Linked DNA regions of Homo sapiens: region 2 is linked to region 1. A link means that fine-mapping ties the variant in region 1 to the expression of a gene that starts in the linked region. Tissue or cell type: whole blood. Region 1 holds a variant in brackets; the other region holds the start of a gene. All regions are shown on one strand. Distances are between the middles of the regions.

Region 1 (6,712 bases):
CAGGATCTCACTCTGTCACTCAGGCTGGAGTGCAGTGGCATGATCATGGCTCACTGCAGTCTCGACCTCCTGGGCTCAGATGATCCTCCTACCTCAGCCTCCTGAGTAGCTGGGACTACAGGCACCCACCACCATGTCTGGCTAATTTTTGTAGAGATGAGGTTTTGCCATGTTGCCCAGGCTGGTCTCAAACTCCTGGGCTCAAGCAATCCACCTGCCTTGGCCTCCCAAAGTGCTAGGATTACAGGTGTGAGCCACTGTGCCTGGCCTGAAATAGTTAATATCAATATTAGTTTCAGCTGATATAATCAACTTATTAAAAAAAGAGAATCAACTAACAAATTATTAAACTGATTAAAAATTCAACAAGCATGATGGATATTACTACTCAAAAAAAAACTTAAAGCAGTCATATGTGCTAATTTGGATTCATTGATCCAATTCAAAAAAAAAAAAACGAGAATAAAAGAATCCCATTAGTAATTGTTCCCGAGTTTTCATGAAACCCTGTAGAGGGCCTCATATTGGCAGTTGGTTGGCCCCATTCATTGTGTTCTACAATTTTTAGGGATACCTGATCACTAAGTTCTAAAGATAACAGTCTGTGTGCTTTGTTTCAATATATTGGTTGCACTGTCTGTTTGTGTAAGATTTGGGGCAACTCAAACTATACCACCACTGTGACCTTATCCCAATGTAAAACAACCTTTCTATGATACACATGCAGAATAAAGCAAGTGCATAAGGAAATTTTAAAGTTGTTATACACACTTTGTTCAGAGTATGCTTGGCAGAGACCCCATGTGTAATTATTTGTATTACCCAAAGCATATCTTAGCATAATGAACTCATATGTGTAAATAATTGATTAGCTTTATCAAAATTAAACAATAAATATTACAGCAGTTTTCTCTGTAGCTATCTAGGTTACACTATATATGCTAGAAGTAAAGGGATGGGAAGACTGCATTACTTAAATTCCTTTGTTAGGATTATTCGGGTGCCAGCAGTTGTAGAGGCCATCTCTGATCATACCTATCTGACACCTCCCTGTGCCCCACTTTGTCCCATTCTCTGACCAGGGCACCCACAGGACTGACTTTCAGTTTGCCTTTATTCTACATTTTGTCACAACTACTAAGGAGGACAAAACCTGCTAACTCCCCTAACCACATTAAGTTTGAGTCCAGCCTTTTTTGGAGTGATTAGCAAAAATCCTGTCTGAATACTGATGAAGAACGCAAGATAGAAAGAAAACCACAAAAACTGCTAAATTTAAAAGATGTTAAATTTTTAAGCCTGCACAAACATTAAGTGTTGACTCCCAAAGAAATCTTTCCCATCTAAATAGCACCACAAGTCACCCACTTATAGCCCCCAATCACAGGAGACATGCTTGATTCCAGTGTGTTTCTCACACTCTGTGTCCAAACCATTTGTATGTTTTAATATCCCGCAAAATATATCCTCAATTGTACCACTTCTCTTGACCCTTGGCTCTAACCTTTCAAGTCAAAAACAATTTTCGCCAACTTTCTGGTCAGCCTGTTACTGCTATGTCTCCAGGAAATTAACAAGATTCTTTAACCCAGAGACATTGTTTCTTCAATTTCACAGCTGCACAAATCCTTGTCAAAAATAAAACAGATTGTTATCCATCTGATCTCCCTTTGATACACTGTATATCCCTGAAATCATTATTATTGGAATTAGTGAATACTTACATTAAAAGTTAATTTTAAAAACTTAAGATTTTTCAAAGTATCAGACATTAAATGTCAAAAATTAAGATCTAAAACCAAAAGCATCTGGATCAAAACCTCATTCTGACATGTAGAGATTTTGGTCAATTGAATTCACCATTGAGACTTTTTAGGTTGAGTTAATGAGTACCTGCCTCATTACTGTAGTGATTGTTAAATAAATGCATGTATCCTATTGCAATGAGGGCCACAGATGGCTATTTTTAAATTTTAGGTTCAGGGGTACATGTGCAGGTTTGTTATATAGGTAAACTGCGTGTCACGGGGCTTGGTGTACAGATTAGTCACCCAGGTAATAAGCATAGTAACTGATGGGTAGTGTTCTATCCTCTCCCTCCTCCTACCCTCCATCCCTCAAGTAGGCCCTGGTGTGTGTTGTTCCCTGATTTGTCTCCACGTGTACTCAAGGTCTGGCTCCTACTTATAGGTGAGAATATGCGGTATTAGGTTTTCTGTTCCTGCATTATTTCACTTACGATTATGGCCTCCAGCTCCATCCATGTTGTTGCAAAGGACATGCCTCATTTTTATGGCTGTGTAGAGTTCCATGGTGTATATGCACCATATTATCTGTACCCAGTCTACTATTGATGAGCATTTAGATTGATTCCATGGCTTTGCTATTGTGAATAGTGCTGGGACAAACATGTGTCTTTATGGTAGAATGATTTATATTCCTTTGGGTATATAACCAATAATGGGATTTCTGGGTCGAATGATAGCCCTAAGTTTTTGGAGGAATTGCCACCCTGCTTTCCACAATGCTGAGCTAATTTACATTCCCACCAGCAGTAGGTAATTGTTCCCTTTTCTCTGCAACCTGGCAAGCATCTGTAATTTTTTTAACTTTTTTATAAGAGCCCAAAAATATCTTTTAATTGGGATTTATATTTCCAGGAGTAGTCAAAAATCTACTAGGGTTTATCGAAATGAAAGATTAGGCCAAGTGTCCTCACCCCTGTAATCCCAGTACTTTGGGAGGCCGAGGTGGGTGGATCACCTGAGGTCAGGAGTTCAAGACCAGCCTGGCCAACATAGTGAAACCCCATCTCTACAAACATACAAAAATTAGCCAGGCATGATGGGTGCCTGTAATCCCAGCTACTCAGGAGGCTGAGGTGGGAGAATCATTTGAACCCGGGAGGCAGAGGTTGCAGTGAGCCAAGATCGTGCCCATTGAATCCCAGCCTGGGTGACAGAGCGAGACTCCATCTCAAAAATCAAATAAAAAAGAAAGGTCAGGCCAAGTCATGCTGCATCTTTAATTTTACTCAAGGTGGAAAGAAATAAAAATAGTAAAAGAATCACATATATTCAGATGACAAAATTTTACTGTCATTTTCATTTCAAAAACAAAAGTATTCAGTCCCTTCAACCAATCCCAGCTCTTTTCCAGCTTCAGCTGTCTTGGGAAGGATTGAAGATCAGGAAATTGACATAGTTAGGTACCTGTTAGTCAACCAAGCCCAGCAGCTCAGCTAAGTTATTTAGCAGTTCTAGATGACTCAAATTTAGATGTCTTTGTATTCTCTTGGAACAAAAATCCCCATTTCTAGAGGGGAAAGAGAGGTACTTTCAGATTTAGCAAAAATAAATTGTGTCTAAAGAGGTGGAGAGAGACCTTTTTCACATTTTCTTGTGTCCATGAGTTTTTCTCCCTCCCAGGAGCAAGAAGTCTAGCCATAAGAATGTTCTGCCCCAACTACATTTTCCCTATGGAAGAAGACTGACCCTGCTTTGAGTAAAGATCATTTGTGTGCATGCATCCCTGCTCATGTATGTGGTACTTTCTGGTTCAGGCTCCCTGGAATGAGTTTGGCACCTGTACTCTTTTACAGTATACTCAAAGGCACAAGACTTCACTTCCAGAGATATACTAAGCAATTTAAATTAAGAGAAGAATTAGATATCTTTCCACCTGGGATGCAAGCTGTGATCAGCATGATCTGAGTTTTGAGCACTTTTGTGTTGGAATAAGCAGCTATTGTGGAGCCTGCCGTCCCTCTAAGGGATTTTCACTGGGCCTGGGACACTGTGCTATATGGAAGCTGGGAGCGAAGTTGTCACTTGGTTCCAGGTTCTTTATTAGAATAAATCATTTCCCTGTTCTGGGTACACAAGGCACATT[C/A]GCTGTATTGCTTAAGGTGTGGGTGTCACATGGCACTTGGCTGGTATCGGTATAGGTATACCTACCCCCTGTGGTAAGGTATCAGGGTCTTTGCCTACAGCTCCAGAGGGGTGCATGCATCCCCCACTTTGCATTGGCTATCAGGAGGGACCTACATGGGAGACTAATACACACAACAAATGCTGATTTTGCTTCATCTTTTCTCCTTGCTTCACCTTTCCTTCTCTCCGGACACACAAAAAAAGACACTGGTTCCAACCAGTGCCTTGTGTGTGCCAAGTCATCCTTGGCAACTCCAAGATAGATTCAGTGGGTCTAGATATGTGAGCTCCCACTCCTGGTGCTTGGCACTATTATTTTTGCCACCCTCCATGCAATGGGAATTCTTATTTGGGATTCATAGCTGGATCTCCCTACTCGACATTTTGCCGATCAATTCAGGAGCCTCAAAAGGAAGAGCAAGTCATCTTGTTCACTAAGAAAATCTCCACCAAAGCACTGATGGTGGGAAGGGTGGTGTGACAGTGTAGTTGTGGCCCTGTATGGTTACAACACTTTCAGAATTAGGCCAAAAAGCAACTGAAATATTTTCTTCTAGATTCTTGCTTTATCAAGGTAATAGAAAAGAAATGCACAATGTCAAAATAAGTTTACAATGTTTCCTCATGAGACATTATCAGGAAACAGAAAAGAAAAAAGCAGTATAGAAAGCCACAGATGAAGGGCTCATGGGAAAATCCTCCTTTTGAGTGCATTATAAAAGAGGGAGACTTCAATATATTTCACTAAGACACGGTTACGAAGAATAATGGGTAAAACTAAAGTGAGCAACTAAATCATAAAAATGCTGAATGTTAATTCAGAAAAGAACACACTGGGTATGGGCAAGCTTTATTATGTATGAGCTTGATTTCAGAGTTAGAATGGCAATTTCACTTAAAATTAACTCATTAAAAAGTATAAATATCATGGTATAGATATGTTATTCAAAACTCCAAAATGTAGTGAAACTGGTAACAGATGTTGCTACTCATCTTTGTACAGACACATCAACAGTATTGATGAAACTGGTTTTCAGACAAGATGTATCACTTGTTCCCTTGCTTTAGGGAGGAGAGGGTGTTATAACACAGGCATTATTGATACAGTGACTTCTTGGATAGTTGCTCCTGTAGGATAGGGGGGAAAAGCAGTTAAGAGCTGCTTAAATATAACCTTACCTAAAAAGAAAACACGTTCAGAGAACTCATGGGTGCTCAATTAGAAGTAATGTGGAAAAAAAAATCACATTTCTACCCTAAAATGTAATCTATGGAACTAACCAGCTATATCAAATATAACCATTAGATATTATGCTATTAGAAGTGATTAGCATCTATGTGTTGGCTAGATGACTGCCTTTCTGAGACTATCAAGTAATTACATCATACATTTCAACTTTGATTTTAAGTGGTTTTCAGATCTCTAGAACAAAGCTTATTTCTTTATGAAATGTCAACTTCAAGGCTATTGTCAATATGCACAAGTTTTCTGACATCCTTTTAAAATAAGCTCAGTAGAAAAATCCTGATTAAAAAGAGTGTTTTCTACAGGTATTAATCTTAGGAAAAGTGCGAATTAGATGTAGTGACTTCCTCTGAATTTAAGCCTAGTTTACCTATCTGCCTACTTATTTTATACACATATATGTATATAGACATGTTTTTCTACAAATATTAGTATGAAATTAGAGATCTGGTATGGGCCTTCTATGACAACAATTTCATTTTGTCACAGGCTATATTGAAAATGAACAGTTTAGTACCTGAGAGAATAGGTAAGGAAACTGACCAGTATGGAACCTATTCATGTTCATCTGCAACAAGAAAATGATAACTATATCCAAGTACAGACTACGGTACCTAATTCTACAGGGTTCATATTAAAACCAGAGCAATTTCAGCATGCAGCATTCAAATAGGAATTTACATCATTGCCTTCCTTGAAGTTATATTTAACAAATTGTGGTTAACTATAAAATAAACAACCTTAATATTCTCACCTTATTAACACTGTTAAAATTAAGTGTCCATGTTTTACTTTGTGTGGGAGTTGGTGACTCTTGTCCTTTTGTTTTTTGAGGGATTTCTTTCAAGGTGTGGGCATCAAACCCACTCATTCCAAAATGCATCACAGAGGGGAATTTAAGCCTAAATGCAGAGCAAACAAAAGAAAAGCACAGGATTAATAGCTGTACAGATTTTTTGTGGGAAAAATATGTATTAGATAGGTTCGTTATAAGTGATAACCCAAAATAACTGACTTGTGGAGGAAAGGCAAAGTAGCTCAGTAAATCTAAATAAAGAGTTTGTAACAGAACCTTGAATAGGATGGTACTTATTGATCCAGAATTGATCCTTGACTTGACTTTGAGGCTCCGGGGTCAATAAAAGTTTTGAAGAGCAAAATGATTGTTAGATGTGACAAACATTCTATCTATGCTGAATGGACTATGACTCAACCAAGCCAGGCCACACACACACATCCCAAGATTAGAAATTGAAAACAGAGACCCATATGTATGCAAAAAGATGCTACCACCAAAATCTTAGGCAGGAAATAGAGACATAGACACACCCCATTCCAAGGTTAAAAAGGATTTCACCACCTTTAACTACCATCTCAACCCTTCCCCATCCTATCTTAGGAGTTGTAGTGTTTATTCCCACTGCTGCTCTTTCCTTCCCTGCATGTAAGAAAAAGGAATGTGGTTTGCTCGTCTCTCAAAGCCAGCATGTAGGCAGTTCCAGGAGAATGATTCAGATTCAGAGTACATGTGTAA
Region 2 (5,292 bases), 56 kb before region 1:
CTGGGATTACAGGCATGCACTATCACACTCAGCTAATTTTTTATATTTAGTAGAGATGAGGTTTCACCATGTTGGTCAGGCTGGTCTCAAACTCCTGACCTCAGGTGATCCACCTGCCTCAGCCTCCCAAAGTGCTGGGATTACGGGTGTGAGCCACCATGCCCAGCCTTTGTTGTTATTTTTAGTTGACAGATAAAGTTGTATGTATTTATCATATAACTTTATTGATGAATAGTGCTAGAAGTATGTTCCTGGAGTTGGATTCTGAAAGTTTAGGTTCAATTACTATTAGTCAAGTGGCCCTTAGGCAAGTCATTTAACTTGTATTAGATTCAGGTTTCTCATGGGATAAAACTGTGGGCTAAATGTTTAACCCACCGTTAATTGTAAAAAGAATCTTTTGTTGTTGTTAATGAGCATATCTATGTTATATATGCTCACATATAATTTATAATTAAGAATTATAAATATCATGTTAATACTGGGAATAAACAACTGGTTAGATCTGAGAAAGAGAAAAACCTATGTTCAGTGTTATTTCAGAAACAATTATAGATATATACTCACAAATATGGCTCCCCAGAATGGATAACCTGCTTTAAATGATGAAAAAATGTCTCCCTCAATGTGTGAAATATCAAGTACAGAGCAGACAACTGTTCCAAAACAAAGGCATATCATAGCAGTCAGAATTTGTGTTACCTATAGAAAAACACATGAATTTCATGAAAATCAAAAAAATTTTCCCGAGATTGTATCATTTTTTAATAATAGAAGCCAAACATGAGAAACTGCGTTAGTGTCCTAGACTGTCCTGAGAAATGATCCACACGTAAGATTTTCCAGGATACCCTAGCCACTATAAGAATTGATACAAGCACTACCTAATGCATGGAAGGCCAATACTTTTCTCCATGCGCCTTTATGTACGTAGTCATGTTGAACATCAGTAATTGTTCTTTACATCTAAGTAAAGATAAAGATTATGAATCCTTCACTCCTGTTGGCCATTCTCGTCCTAGCAATTTAAAGTCTTTATGAGGAAATGCTTCTCTCTTCCCAAAAGGACCCAGTTAGTGTCAACTCTTTATCTACCATGTTTTTTAAAGGACCTAACACCTCTCATGAATCCAAGTGGGAAAACAGTTGATGCAACTCAATATTCTTTTCTAGACCCAACCCTTACTCTAGTCAAAGTTGGAGGAGGCTCACTCACCCCCAGGAACTCCTGCTCTTTTTTCAAAACTGTCAGCCATGTATGCAGTGGTGGGGATGAGGCCGACTTCAATAGTCTGCCTGAAGATACTTCCTGGGGAGATATTTCCAAGACTTCAAATGCAGGCACACTGTGAAATTTAAAAGCAATTCAGTCATGAGAACATTCTGTAACTCCCTGTGCAACATTCTCGACAGACAGAAAGGGGAGTTTTGTTTATTTTTTCAAAGCCATCCTGTAATTCAAATCTTCATTGTAATCACCAAGAAACTAAAGCTCAGAGCATCCAAGTAACTGACCAAGAACACCTGAACACTATCCAAGTGATTAGATGGGACAAAATGGAGCAAAATCCATGCCAAATTTTCCTATTCTTAATCCAGTGTTACTTTCAAGTTCTTTCTCATTCATCTATGTTGACAAGTAAAACTGAAAATAAACACATTTACCTATGCATCTCACAATCCTTTTAACATAGAAATGTATCTGAATATATTTTGTCAGTAACAAACCCCAACTTCATGTGCACAGAATACAATGAAGGAATGGCTTTGAATAGCTAGATGGGACTCTATTACTATTTTCATCTTCAGAGAAGCATCCCACAGCTTATGGATTATAAAGACCAATCAAGAAGCAGGTTACTTTATCAAGTATTTATAAAAGCATGTGTGAAGGATATGTGTCCCTCAGCACATGTCAGACCCAGAAGCCAGAGATCTACATACACAGTATGAACTCTCCTGTCTCATACCCAGAAAATGAGCTTCTAATGTGAGAAAATCTATTTCCAGTTTGCAAGCTGAGTAAAAATGTTCCTCTCCAGGGAGAGAGAACCACATGGAAAGTACAGCAAGTAGCTTCCTCATACCCAATATATTAATTAAACTAGATGGATCCATGCCTAAATCAATAAAGTTTCATCTCCTAAGCACCGTGACTATGACTTCCCCTGCCACTAAGTGACTGAGGGTAGAAAAAAATAATACCTTGTACCTACCTGGAAGGCTCCTGTGGGAGAGCAAGATTTGCTCTCCTATTACTTTCTGTGTCCATTTTTTCATTAACCGAGCTGTCCAGGAATAAAGAATATTATTATATTGAGACTTGGTGGATTTCCTCTTACTGCATGCTCTGAATAGGCAGTTGAAATGGGTTACCTCATGACATTGATGATTCTCTTTATACATAAGTCATTTGCCAGACAGATAAGTTTCTTGGCTGATTAAGATCAACAGGCTTTTACTTGTGATGAATAGAAAAATTAAGAAGTCTACTAAATAAAGACTAATATGAAATAAGAAAATTTGAGACTCCTGGAGCATAATTTTGCCTGAGACTAGCAGGATTTACAGAACCTGAAAATGAGACATTTTAGTAGGAGTTGAGAAGGTGAGAAAGAACTGCAGAAAAGAAAGAGATGTGCCCTTCTTCTGGAATTGTCCCCACTTGTGTCCCAATTCAGCCATTTCTATGGCAGAAGTTATCCAATTGCACCTTTGAAAAGCTTGTCTTCCTTGTTTAAGGCATGCTTGGTTTCACACATAGACCCAAAACTGAAGTGCTGTTGTATGTGAGTGAGTATGTGTTAGTCTCTAAATCTCCAGATCCATCTCTGACTTTAATATCTATCATCTTTCTCTCTCTTTCCGTCTTTTGGAAACTGTTTACATGATTCGCTGCAGCAGATGGTCTTGGAAATACAACAGGCTGCATTCTAACTGCTGTGAACCATACCTGATAGTGTGTAAAAGCTAAGAAGACTCCATTGTCTGCTAAATTATTAGACTGATGGTGCTTAGATCTTTACAGTGGCAAGAATGGGATAGTGAGAACACTGAGAGACATGAACTTTATAACAAATCCCATGAGCAAATCTAAACAGCATTGGATTGAGTAGTATGCCTAAATTAGAATTAGGGCTAAACCATGTGATCATTGAAATACCATAACTAGCTAGACCATAGCAAAATCAGTACAGATAAAATTCAGAGAAGGTTTTAATCTCTTTTATTTCAGTTTAATTATAAACATAACCTTGAATGGCTTTCAATAATATTTAAGATACTAAAAATCACACCTCTAATCATGTGTGGTTTTTTTGGTGGGGGTGGGGGGTGAAAAAGAAAATCTTTTTGCAGGAAACTAAGATATTTGCATAAACAGAGTATACTAAAAGACATATTGGTATAGCTTTTGTATCTAAGTTTATTAACTCAGGTGTCATCTTCCCATGGTGTCTTCAGGAATTGGTGGACCTAAACAAGGTGCTATTGGAATTAAGGAATAGAACTTTCTCACTTATACGTTCATCCAAAAAGAACTTAGTGTTCCATGCCAGGCACTGCCCTTATCACTGTGCATGCACAGATGAATGCCAAAATCCCAGGTCCTTCTAGTCCACAATCAAGCAGAATAGAACAAAGATAAATGATATATTATTACCCAATATGTTGGAGGCCAGAGGATGTTGGAACACATAGAAGGGTAAAACAATTCTGCCTGATAGGGGATATGTAGAGTTCAGGGAAGGAATTCCCAGACAAGGTAACATTTGAGAGCAGACTTAAAATTAAAATGATAGCCTCGATAATTTTCTATTTTCTTTTTTTTTCTTTTTTTTTTTGAGACAGAGTCTCACTCTGTCACCCAGGCTGGAGGGCAATGGCTCACTGCAACCTCCGCCTCCCAGATTCAAGCAATTCTCCTGCCTCAGCCTCCCAAGTAGCTGGGACTACAGGAGTGTGCAGCAACACTGGGCTAATTTTTTTGAATTTTTAGTAGAGAAGGGGTTTCACCATGTTGGCCAGGCTGGTCTTGAACTCCTGTCCTCAGGTGACTCACTCACCTCGGCCTCCCAAAGTGCTGAGATTACAGGAGTGAGCCACTGCGCCCAGCCACGAATTTTCATTTTATCTTTCTTTTTCTTTTCTTTTCTTTTTTTTTTTTTTTTTTTTTTTTTTTGACGGAGTTTCGCTCTTGTTGCCCAAGCTGGAGTGCAATGGCGCGATCTCGGCTCACCGCAAACTCCACCTCCTGGATTCAAGCGATTCACCTGCCTGAGTCTCCGGAGTAGCTGGGATTACAGGCATGCGCCACCACGCCCGGCTGATTTTGTATTTTTAGTAGAGATAGGGTTTCTCCATGTTGGTCAGGCTAGATTGAACTCCAGATCTCAGGTGATCCACCCGCCTCGGCCTCCCAAAGTGCTGGGATTACAGGCGTGAGCCCCGGCACCCAGCCTTATTGCCTCCTTCTTAGTGAAATTACCCCACACCTGCTGGGAAAAGTCCTGAAGTCATGGTTCTGTGTGGCGTTTTCTAGTAGCTTATAGTAGTTAATTATTTGTGCAGCAAATAATCACTAATTGAACTTGAGATTTAGACTGGAAACAAACTGAAGATGGTCTTTGGTGTTTGCACACGATGCTGTTTTGTGAGAACTGTCAACAGAACCTTGCAAAATGCAAATCAGAACCTGTCATACCTTACGGCCTCCAAATTGTTTCCTATTCCAATTTTCACAACCACCTCCTTGCCCCTTCGTAAGTTACCTATTATCTTCTATGCCCACACTTTGGTTCCCTTCAGCCATGTTTTATCATCTTTCACAATAATGAACATTGAAACATATGACAAAATGACTGGCTTTTTTGGTGAGGCAAAATTATCAAGATGAGTTTTAACTATGCTGCTACCTGAAAGGAAGAGATAACAGAGCTAACACCCCTTCCCTACCATGTATCTTTCCTCCTCTAGCACGGTCTTTGCACATGCCTTTCACCCACCCCACATCTCTGGCTTCCTCTTTGACAAGCAAGGTTTCCTCTTTAAGTTACATACTAGATTTCTTTCTTGAAACTGACAAAAAATTTGCTTTTGTATCCATTAACAATTGTTTTCTCAAACTGAATGCTCAATTTACTTAAAATAAATATGCATGAATTTGCATGCTACAAGTTGAAATTTATGCTGTCTCAGATTAAAGCCTTAAAAGTAAAACCTAAAACCATAAAAACCCTGGAAGAAAACCTAGGCAATACCATTCAGGGCATAGGCATGGGCAAAGACTTCATG

What was found. PIP is the estimated chance that this variant, and not a neighbour inherited with it, causes the effect.
Region 2: it holds the start of MS4A2, and the variant in region 1 is the best candidate, but not a certain one, in a credible set for the expression of MS4A2 in whole blood (TOPMed, PIP 0.89).

Annotation. Positions count from the first base shown.
Region 1 is chr11:60,029,150-60,035,861 of GRCh38, reverse strand. It overlaps OOSP4B (oocyte secreted protein family member 4B), which reads right to left. Exons shown (of 5, transcript NM_001395278.3): 4 at 5,933-6,080; 5 at 4,767-5,060. The coding sequence ends at 5,028. Among named protein-coding and RNA genes, the nearest start is that of OOSP2, 7.9 kb to the left of the region's middle. The variant C/A (reference allele first, on the strand shown) is at 3,892.
Region 2 is chr11:60,085,746-60,091,037 of GRCh38, reverse strand. MS4A2 (membrane spanning 4-domains A2) reads right to left here and starts at 2,374. Exons shown (of 7, transcript NM_000139.5): 1 at 2,217-2,374; 2 at 1,217-1,346; 3 at 568-702. The coding sequence starts at 2,272.